Linked DNA regions of Homo sapiens: region 1 is linked to region 2. Evidence: fine-mapped expression QTL. A gene starts in region 2. The other region holds a variant in brackets. All regions are shown on one strand. Distances are from middle to middle.

What was found. PIP is the estimated chance that this variant, and not a neighbour inherited with it, causes the effect.
Region 1: its variant is the best candidate, but not a certain one, in a credible set for the expression of DLD in breast (GTEx, PIP 0.58).

What each region holds. Positions count from the first base shown.
Region 1 is chr7:107,940,198-107,945,197 of GRCh38, forward strand. It overlaps LAMB1 (laminin subunit beta 1), which reads right to left. Exons shown (of 34, transcript NM_002291.3): 25 at 1-161. Among named protein-coding and RNA genes, the nearest start is that of DLD, 52 kb to the left of the region's middle. The variant G/A (reference allele first, on the strand shown) is at 2,984.
Region 2 is chr7:107,888,114-107,893,644 of GRCh38, forward strand. DLD (dihydrolipoamide dehydrogenase) reads left to right here and starts at 3,070. Exons shown (of 14, transcript NM_000108.5): 1 at 3,070-3,176; 2 at 5,087-5,165. The coding sequence starts at 3,138. RefSeq lists enhancers at 2,771-2,850, 2,808-3,490, 3,001-3,240 and a silencer at 3,301-3,410.

The DNA of each region.
Region 1 (5,000 bases), 52 kb after region 2:
AGCAAAGCACTGGTGGCAGGGTGTGCAGTCAGGGAAGACCCCCGAGTACCCTCGCGTGCACTTGTCACAGCGTGGACCCTCAACACCCTCAACGCAGACACACTGGCCCGTGGACTGGTCACACTGTGGCGTCTCAATGCCCCTGGGGTCACAGTCACAGGCTAGAAGGGAATAAGCAATGCTAGCTGATCTACTTAATCATGAACCTCAGTGACAAGATGTGGCATTTAGAATACTCACTTCACTGTGAAAATGGGAAGGTGTCAACCATCGACAACAATTGACCAATGGCTCAGGTAGAGACTGTAGCAGCTTCCTCTAGCACATGCGTGACTTCAGTGGTTGCTAACCCCTTCTTAGCAGTAATAATACTTTAAACAGAAATGTTTTATATGAATGATCCCATTTAACTCTCACAATAACCCTATGGGATACGTGTTATAATAATCACTATTTCACAGATGTGGGAACTCAGAGATCAGAGAGATTATGTAACATGCCCCAAGTCTCACTGCAAGGAAAAGGCCACGCCAGAATTCTGATTCAGTTCTTTGCAACTCCGGAGTCTATACTCTTCACCTCCGTCCTGCCTTTGCCTCCCCCTTACTTAGGATTTCCCCACAGACCATGTCTGTACAAACAATCCAGGTTACATCCTGATAATGTGCCACCTGGCATCGGATACATCACAAATGAGAAGCTCTTTACGTACCTGACTCTATCTCACAACAAAACATACTTGATGAAATGCAATAAACATGATCAAAACAAAACAAAACCCAAAGGAATTCTAAGTATCCAGTTTAAAGGCTTTCAACTAAGTATAATCTAACTTGGGGGTGTCTGCCATTGTGATGACCACTGCCAGTACTACAAGCAGGGATCTTGGGAGCCATTCAGTCTCAGCGTCTCACAGGCCCAATAGGGTTGGCACCTCATGCAAAGCCAAATGGCACAGGAAAATCACGTGCCGTACAGGACAAAATGTGTTCTTGGCCAGTAGCTGTGGCTGAGATTACTTAGCACAGTGGCTGTGCCCTTGAACCCTGGCTTAGATTCCCAAATTTCAGGTGACCAAATCATTTTTATATCAACATCTGACATTTGAAAGTATTTATACAGGGTTTGAATTACGAAAGGCCTTATGCTAACATCTTATCGCTGGGCTTCCACCCATTCTGAGGAAAGACAGGAATAAATAAAGAATATACTATCTTATTTCCCTAACTGGATTGTGGACTCCAAGGGCAGGGGCACATCTTAAACCATTTTTCGTTTTTCAGCATCGGACTCAGGGTTAACTTGCAATCAGAATCCAAACGTCTTTGCCAAATGAAGCCCTAACCTCATTTTAGTCTAGGCATGCAAGGACACTTACATACCTTCATAAAAGAAAATAATCCTCCTGAAGTGCAATGTCAACTGTGGCAAAGCACAACAGATTCATGCTTTCTCGGATTTTTTTTTTTTTTTGAGACGGAGGTTTTGCTCTTGTTGCTCAGGCTGGAGTACAATGGCGCGATCTCGGCTCACTGCAACCTCTGCCTCCTGGCTGGGTTCAAGCAATTCCCCTGCCTCAGCCTCCCGAGTAGCTGGGATTACAGGCATGCGCCACCACACCCGGCTTTTTTTTTTTTTTTTTTTTTTTTTTTTTTTTTTTTAAGAGACGGTGTTTCTCCATGTTGGTCAGGCTGGTCTGGAACTCCCGACCTCAGGTGATCTGCCTGCCTTGGCCTCCCAAAGTGCTGAGATTACAGGTGTGAGCCACTCTTGGGTCAATAGCTGTGATTTGCCTCTGAAAAACTTTTTTTTTTTTTGGAAGAGTCTCACTCTGTCTCCCAGGCTGGAGTGCAGTGGCATGATCTCGGCTCACTGCAACCTCCACTTCCCGGGTTCAAGCTATTCTGCCTCTGCCTCCTAAATAGCTGGGACTACAGGCATGCACCACCATGCCCAGCTAATTTTTGTATTTTTAGTAGAGACGGGGTTTCACCATGTTGGCCAGCATGGTCTCCATCTCTTCACCTTGTGATCCGCCCACCTTGGCCTCCCGAAGTGCTGGGATTACAGGCGTGAGCCACCGCGCCCGGCCTTCCTCTGAAAAACTTTCTAATGGAACATCTCCCAGAACCAGTTATACTGAGGGTCCTGAGATCTGCTATAACATCACCATCCTTTCAACCCAGAGGTGTGTGTTTGTGGCCCATTCATTTGGCCCTCACCACATCCTGCCTTGTATTGCTAGTTTATCTTTTTATTGTCTTTGTTCTCCCCCTACATTCCAAGCTCTCGAGTGGCAGGTTTGAGGAGTACAGCATTATGGTTAAGAGCATGAACTGCGGACTGAGGTGGTAAATCCTGCCTTCTCCACACATGTTATGTGACCCTGGGTAATCAGGAAACTGAGTCACGTCTTCCACATCTGTAAGAAGAGGTAATGATTATAAATACAGGACTGCTTTCAAGATAAAATAATTACAAAGTGCTTAGAAGAGCATCTGGTCTATAGCAAGCATTCAATAAATAAATTGTTTTTATTATCACTTTTCGTGTCCCTACAAGTGTCTGGTAGTCTTCTGCTAAGAGTGATGCTTGATCGTATTTCCATTGGATAAAGGGGAAAAACGTGTTCCGGTTATATGTTTATTTATATGTATTTGCCAATAACGTCATGATTATTCAAAAATTTGAAGTTTAGAATATTAATTCCTCAACCTTTAGGATTTTAAAACATGTAATTTCCTTAGCGCCTGGGGTTTTCAAAACCAAGACCTTAGGATTTCAAAAGTAAAACTTGGGTGTATGCTTTTCAAAAAACAGATCCTTTCCAGGTACTTAAAGTATGTTTCATTTTTCTTGTTTGGGGAATATTCTCGTAATGAATCAGGAAGCTGTTTAGGCAAACCATGGATAACTTTAATGGTGATCCGTAGACCATACGTTCTATGATGTGTTCCTTGAAAAAACTATCCCATGATGAAAA[G/A]TTCTGTATCCTTATCTTGAAGATTAAAAACAAGTGTCAGCATATTACAGACTCAGAAGAGTTCTGCAGGAAAAACTGTTTTATATTGTTTTTATCCAGTTGTATGTATGCCAAAGTCATTTGACCATGGGATCTTTTTTTAGTGGAAGTCAATGCCAGTGACACCCAAGAGAAATAATGAGAAAGGCTTGGGAAAACCACTACATTAATCGATTTCTGAGATTAGGAAGAACTTAGATAACTTACAAATAACTTAAATAACTTAGTACCTTAAGAGTTTATGTTGTTTAGATTTTAGGAATACATTTCCATTATCATTTGGTAAAATTTAGTCATCTTCCAGAAAGCTAAAAGTTACCCCCGAGTCACCTGGGTCCTCACCTCTCAAACTTGGGTAGGTATCAGAATCACCTGGAAGGTTCATAAAAAACAGATTGCTTCTCTACTCTCCTCCCATCCCCAGATTCTGATTCAGTAGGTCTGGGTGGGGCCCAGAACTATTTTTATTTCTATCACGTTCCCAGGAGATACTGATGTTCACAGTCACGCGACCCCGTTTTGTGGAGCACTGACTGTTACTTTCCCAGCTGTTTCTGCCCGCCTTCTGTATATTAGAGAAAAAAAGAGAGCATGTGCGTGTGTGTGTATCTGTGTGTCTGTGTGAGAGATGGAGAAAGAGATACCCTTCAAAAGGTGGAGCTGGAGCAGAATCACGACTTCGGAAGTTCAGCAATGTAGGCTGATGCACAAATCTCAGGACTTACGTAACAGAGGAAGAAGTGATGCCATTTGTAATAAAACTTACCTTGTCTACCAGCCAGTGGTCAGGGTGAGGCAGCCCTCTGGGGCCTACTCACCCATCTCCCTTAGACTTGACACAACTGAGGCAGAGTTGCATATGCTTATAGTTTGCTTAGACAATTATTTCTTTCCCATAGATGATGCAAAGGTATACCTTTGTTCAGTCCTAAACATTAGGTTTTTGCTGGATTCATGCTTGGGGCAAGGGATGCATGCATACGTTGATTTATTTTTAATTTCTGTGATCATTTTTCATTTATTTCGTTGCCAAAGACATGTCTTGCTCCCATTCTGTCATAGGCATCTTTAAGGGGAAAACAGCCCAACCCTGAAAGACTTAAAAGGCAGATAAGGCTTCCCTCTTTATCTGGCCGAGGGAAATTAGCCTGGGTAAGAGTTCCAATGAGCTAGCAGAGCTTCGGCTCTCTCCAGAAGTCAACAACCAGTTCAGCCAAACTGACCAACATTCCTTTCTCCCACCTGAAAAGTAAACCATCAAATCTCACAGATGACCGGATTGCAGTGTCATTATTGAAAAAGTTGGGCCTGACTCTCCGGGAGGGCACCAAATAACTAGTCTCAAATGTACCAGGTTTTGATTTCAAGCTGAAGCCCCTGGTCATGTGCTTCCTTCCCTGGCTATTGAATTTCCAGAATTGCTTCTCTTGGAGTCACCTAAGAGGCAGGCACCAGAAGGCCCACATTTTACAACCTTGTAAAAAGACCCCCTCCACTTCAAGAATATTTTCAGTGAAACTCCCACACTCACGTGGCTGAAGCAGAAAGGTCAGTTCACACTTGACAAGTTAGTAAAACTTCATGGACACTAATGTATGGAGGAGATTCTCCCATCATCTCACACACCCACCAGGATCTGAAAAACTGTGAACTGACTATTCAGGCTGCAGCTGATGAGGTCCAGTGGGCTCCTTCTCTCTTAAGAGAAAGGAATCAGAATCCAAATGACCTAGATAAAGCAGTCTTATTTTAAGAAATGGGATTACTTGGCAGAGAATCAGAAACTTTCTCTTGGAAAGGAGAGCATACATAGCAAAAGTTGTTGCCTAATCTTTAAGATGAACAAATCATGAAGATGAAGAATAGTATTTTTTAAATGAGATACTCATTTTAACAAGCCATAATAATTTGACTTTCATCTGTAAACACACTCTCTGTTCTGTGGCCAGTAGGCTTCCTCTATTTTTACTAAGTTTTC
Region 2 (5,531 bases):
GAGGGGCTTAGCACCCAGGCCAGCAGCTGCAGAGGGTGCGCCAGGTCCCCCAGCAGTGCTGGCCCACTGGCGCCCAAGGGCTGAGGAGTGCGGGCACACAGCGGGACTGGCGGGCAGCTCCGCCTGCCGCCCCAGCGCAGGATCCACTGGGTGAAGCCAGCTGGGCTCCTGAGTCTAGTGGGGACTTGGAGAACCTTTGTGTCTAGCTAAGGGATTGTGAGTGCACCAATCAGCACTCTGTGTCTTGCTCAAGGCTTGTGAACACACCAATCAGCACCCTGTGTCTAGCTCAGGGTTTGTGGATGCACCAATTGGCACTCTGTATCTAGCTAATGTGGCGGGGACTTGGGGAATCTTTATGTCTAGCTAAGGGATTGTGAATACACCAATCGGCACTCTGTATCTAGCTCAAGGTTTGTAAACACACCAATCAGCACCCTGTGTGTAGCTCAGGGTTTGTGGATGCACCAATCGGCACTCTTTATCTAGCTAATCTGGTGGGGACTTGGAGAATCTTTATGTCTAGCTAAGGGATTGTGAATGCACCAATCGGCACTCTGTGTCTAGCTCAAGGTTTGTAAATGCACCAATTAGCACTCTGTGTCTAGCTAATCTGGTGGGGAATTGGAGAATCTTTACGTCTAGCTAAGGGATTGTGAATGCACCAATCGTCACTCTGTATCTAGCTCAAGGTTTGTAAATGCACCAATCAGCACTCTGTGTCTAGCTCAGAGTTTGAAAATACACCAATCGACACTCTGTATCTAGCTAATCTAGCGGGGACTTGGAGAACTTTTGTGTCTAGCTCAGCCATTGTAAACGCACCAATCAGCACCCTGTCAAAATGGACCAATCAGCTCTCTGTAAAACAGACCAATCAGCTCTCTGTAAAATGGACCAATCAGCAGAATGTGGGTGGGGCCAGATAATAAAAGCAGGCTGCCTGAGCCAGCAGTGGCAACCCGCTTGGGTCCCGTTCCACAGCGTGGAAGCTTTGTTCTTTCACTCTTTGCAATAAATCTTGCTGCTGCTCACTCTTTGGGTCCACACTGCCTTTATGAGCTGTAACACAGCGAAGGTTTGCAGCTTCACTCCTGAAGCCAGTGAGACCACAAACCCACCAGGAGGAATGAACAACTCCAGACGCGCTGCCTTAAGAGCTGTAACGCTCACCGCAAAGGTCTGCAGCTTCACTCCTGATCTAGCGAGACCACGAACCCACCAGAAGGAAGAAAGTCCGAACACATCCAAACGTCAGAAGGAACAAACTCCGGACACGCCGCCTTTAAGAACTGTAACACTCACTGCGAGGGTCCGCAGCTTCATTCTTGAAGTCAGTGAGACCAAGAACCCACCAATTCTGGACACAATATGAATATGGAAAGTTGCTCATGAGATAGTTTTAAGTGAAAAAAATCAAGTTAGCAAAATAAGTGTGGTCCAATTTCTGGTTATATTCCTTAGCTGGAATATAAACACTGCTAGTGTGGGCTGTCCATTGTTGACATCGCTCCCTCCACCTCCCGTGTGTTCGCATTAATTTATATGCGTTGTGGCTTTTGTTCTAGCTGAGAGGAGAAGAGGTATAGTTGGTACAAGAGATGAGGAGGAATGTGGAGAAATATGGTGAGTGCAGTAAGGAATCTATTTCCTGCCTCACTTCTCATACTGGGTTGAGCCCCTAGGCTTTGTGAATGACAGCTGGAAAGGATGGAAGTGTTTCATTTTTTAAAAATAAAAATATGATATTGTAATTTTGGACAAAGGAGTAGGGAACAAAGCCCAAGAAAGTTCAGGAAAGAATTGTGAGATTTTGTGCATATGGAGCAGTAACTCCTAGACCAGATGTCAAAGACTGCCATGAAGCTGGAGAGGAGACAATTCTCCCCATCTGTGTGGTGGAGGCTGCTCAATGTCCCCCAATTTCGCTTCATCTCATCTTGCTTATTAATACAATTTCAGTTAGGCACTCAGCTGACAGGACTATGTTTCACAGATCCCCTTGCAGCTAGGTGTGGCTTTGTAATCAGATGGAATGAGGGGATATGATTGTAGAAACTGGAGCAGCCATCTTGAATGAAAGATGCAAGGCAAGCTCTGATGATGGCAGAGTCACGAGATAAAAGGAGCCTGGGACCCTGTCACAGGACAGAGCTGCCAGCAATACCGTCTCTATAACAAACACTAAATTTAATTATTCATATCTAAATCTGAACATAGGCAGTAATTTCTAACCAGTGTTTAGCCCAGCACAAGGCCTGGGTGGTAGACTTCCAATAAATGTAGAATTAAGTTTATTCACACTATATAGACTTATTGCAAGGCAAGAATGAGACCTTAGACTTTCGTGCTCAATCTTGAAGACAATGTTTTTCAACCCTTTTCAACAGATTCTCTCTCAAAACCTAAAATCTCATCCACCATCCCACTCTCTTTTTACCAGGGAGATGTGTTTCTCAACTAAAGAAATAGAAGAAAGTGTGTTCTCTACGTATTGTCAGTTAGCTAATTAGAGCAGAATGCTGGTGATGCCAAAATCTGTAGCCCCATCCCTTATATGGCATTTGAGAGGAGCGAGTATAAAGCAGTAGATAATACCAAAGGTTTTGGCCTCAGGGCCGCAGTTATCTCTCCTTTGTGAGACCTTGGGGGCACTGTTTAACCTCTCTGGGTCTCATCCAAGAAATGGAAATACTAATAATACTCCATATGGTTGTTGCAAGGATGAAATGAGATGTCTGTAGGAAGTGCCGAGGAATGCCTAGCACAACCAAGAGCTTGTTGAACTTGTCACGCTTTACTGTCGATAATGTGCATTAAGCAAACGCTAGTTTTATTTGTTTATTTCATCTTCTAAGTATAAGAATACATTGTAGCTCGACATTTTGGCACCAGCCCCTAAAGCATTCCCACCACCACCCCCGCTGCGACAAAGCCCTGCGCTCCTTACGACAGCGTACGACGCCGAGCCTGACAGGAACGCCTCGTGCGGTAGAACCGCGCGGGCCAATCGCGCTGCTCCCGGGTGATGACGTAGGCTGCGCCTGTGCATGCGCAGGGAGGGGAGACCTTGGCGGAGCGGCGGAGGCGCCCAGCGGAGGTGAAAGTATTGGCGGAAAGGAAAATACAGCGGAAAAATGCAGAGCTGGAGTCGTGTGTACTGCTCCTTGGCCAAGGTGAGGGCCGAGTAGGTGAGGTCGTGTTGAGCCAGAGGCACGGAAGGTCCCGCTCAGTGGGTCCGGTACGCGGCTTAACCGTGTTGGGCTGGCGGAGGCGGGCGCCTGGGCCGCACCACCCCTGGCCCCGCCTCTGCACTGGCTCAGCCCGGCCCTGGGCTCCGAGGTGGCCGCTCATCCTGCAGCAGGCGAGGGACGGGGCTGGGCCCAGGCTGTGGCGAGTCCTTTCGGGTTGTGTGACGGCCGGCGGTCACACATGCCACACCCCCAAGCCTGGGCCGAGGGCCATCCCGGTCACACATAGGCCTCTACCTTGGAGGAAGTGTAAGCCACCCATGTCCCGTATAGTCTGGCTTTTTATACCATTTGCCTTTTTCTCATCCTAATTCTGATCCCTGAGTGGCCTAAGTTTATGCAGTGGGCAGGTAACCCTGGGGTCACTTCTTGAATGGTTTAGATCCAGTCAGCTCCAACAGATAGCCCTCGGAATTCCCCTAAGGTCTTGTCAGTGTTGGCAGCTTTCAACTGGTGTTCATTGCCATCTCTCACGACTTCCTGGAGGCTTAAATCTTTAATTGCAGCAGGTTATCAGAACAACTCTCCTTTTTAATCTGCTTACCAGATACAGCCAAATTGTGTGTATGTGGCACCGTGGCTGGGTACTATGTTAGTGGAGACCTTAAAAATAATATAGCGATCAAACCCTTTTGTTTCAGAGATGAGGAACCTGAGTTCTCAAAAGTTAATGTAACATTCTGCAAGTCATGCTTTTAGGGAGCGGCGGAGGTGGGACTGAAACTCAGGATTGTCAATCTGCTGCTTTTTGGGTTTGCTGTCCTGACCTCAAATGTTAAGAGTTGCCTTGGAATAGGAAACATCAGTGTAGGTTTTGTCACTGCCGCCCATTTTCCTGCTGTGAGCAGGGGTTATTTGCTTGCTTGCTTTCTGCCTCATTGCCCTTAGGAAATGGTAGCCGTCCACATATAGAGATTAGGGAGATTATGATGCAATTTGTCAAACTGTAGTAGCACCAGAACGTAAGTACATTACTTGGTGCATTTTCCTAAGTTACCTTGTCTAATTTGCTATTCCTAGTTGATGTCTCAGGAACATCTTCATAGATTGTTCTAAGTAAATACGGACTGTATATACACGCTAGCTTAGAGTTAGGAAACAAAAATTACAGGTAAAAAGATTATCATGTATAGATTATTCAAGTATTTAAGTTAGAACTTTCAGAGCTTTATTTATTTATTTATTTATTTATTTATTTTGAGACGGAGTCTCACTCTGACATCCAGGCTAGAGTGCAATGGCACTATCTCAGCTGACTGCAACTTCCGCCTCCCGGGTTCAAGTGATTCTCCTGCCTTGGCCTCCCGAGTAGCTGGGATTACAGGCACCCACCACTACACCCGGCTAATTTTCTTGTATTTTTAGTAGAGTCGGGGCTTCACTATGTTGGCCAGGCTGGTCTCGAACTCCTGACCTCAGGTGATCCGCCCACCTCAGCCTCCCAAAGTGTTGGCATTACAGGCGTGAGCCACCACGGCCGGCTCAGAGCTTTATGACATTAAAATGATCCCTGGCACTAATAATTAGCCATGTTTTCTGAAAATTGAATAAAAATACCATTGAATACGTTTTTAAAATTAAGTTAAATATGAGATGATTTGTTGACTATTGATAATAAAAAGATGGGTGTGGCAAGCTGAGGCTGAAAAATTTAAATGATTAGTTATTGTCAAAGAGGGGATATTGATCTGTAGCTTCTGTGTGGCAATGGAAGAAGATACACTAATAATCCTCGCTTGATACGTTTGCCCAAAATTGTTCTGTTATCATCAACCTTCAGTAGTTCTATGTTTTGAATTCATATCTTACATAATAGGGACATTTTCTTTTTCTAGAGAGGCCATTTCAATCGAATATCTCATGGCCTACAGGGACTTTCTGCAGTGCCTCTGAGAACTTACGCAGATCAGCCGAGTAAGTACTTAAGTAAAACATTTTTTTCATCACATTAGCTGACAGTTCCTTTCTATTTCAATGTAAAAGCAAGTGAATATTGGAATAACTTATGTTAAGTGTCTTATAGTTCATTTGTTCATGTATTTATTCGTTTGAATGTATATTGAGCTAGTGTGTTCCAGGCGGTGAACAAGGTAAAAAAACCCTGCTCTTATGAAACTTGTAATTTGGTGATAAAAGACAAACAATATATAAGTAATGGATAAATATTTTGGGAAGTAACTGAAAATTAAAGCAGGTAATAGGGAGGAAGAGAGATAATTTTAGATACAGTGTCAGGAAAGGCCTTTCTGAGGAGATGATGTCTGGGCAGGGTCCTGAGTG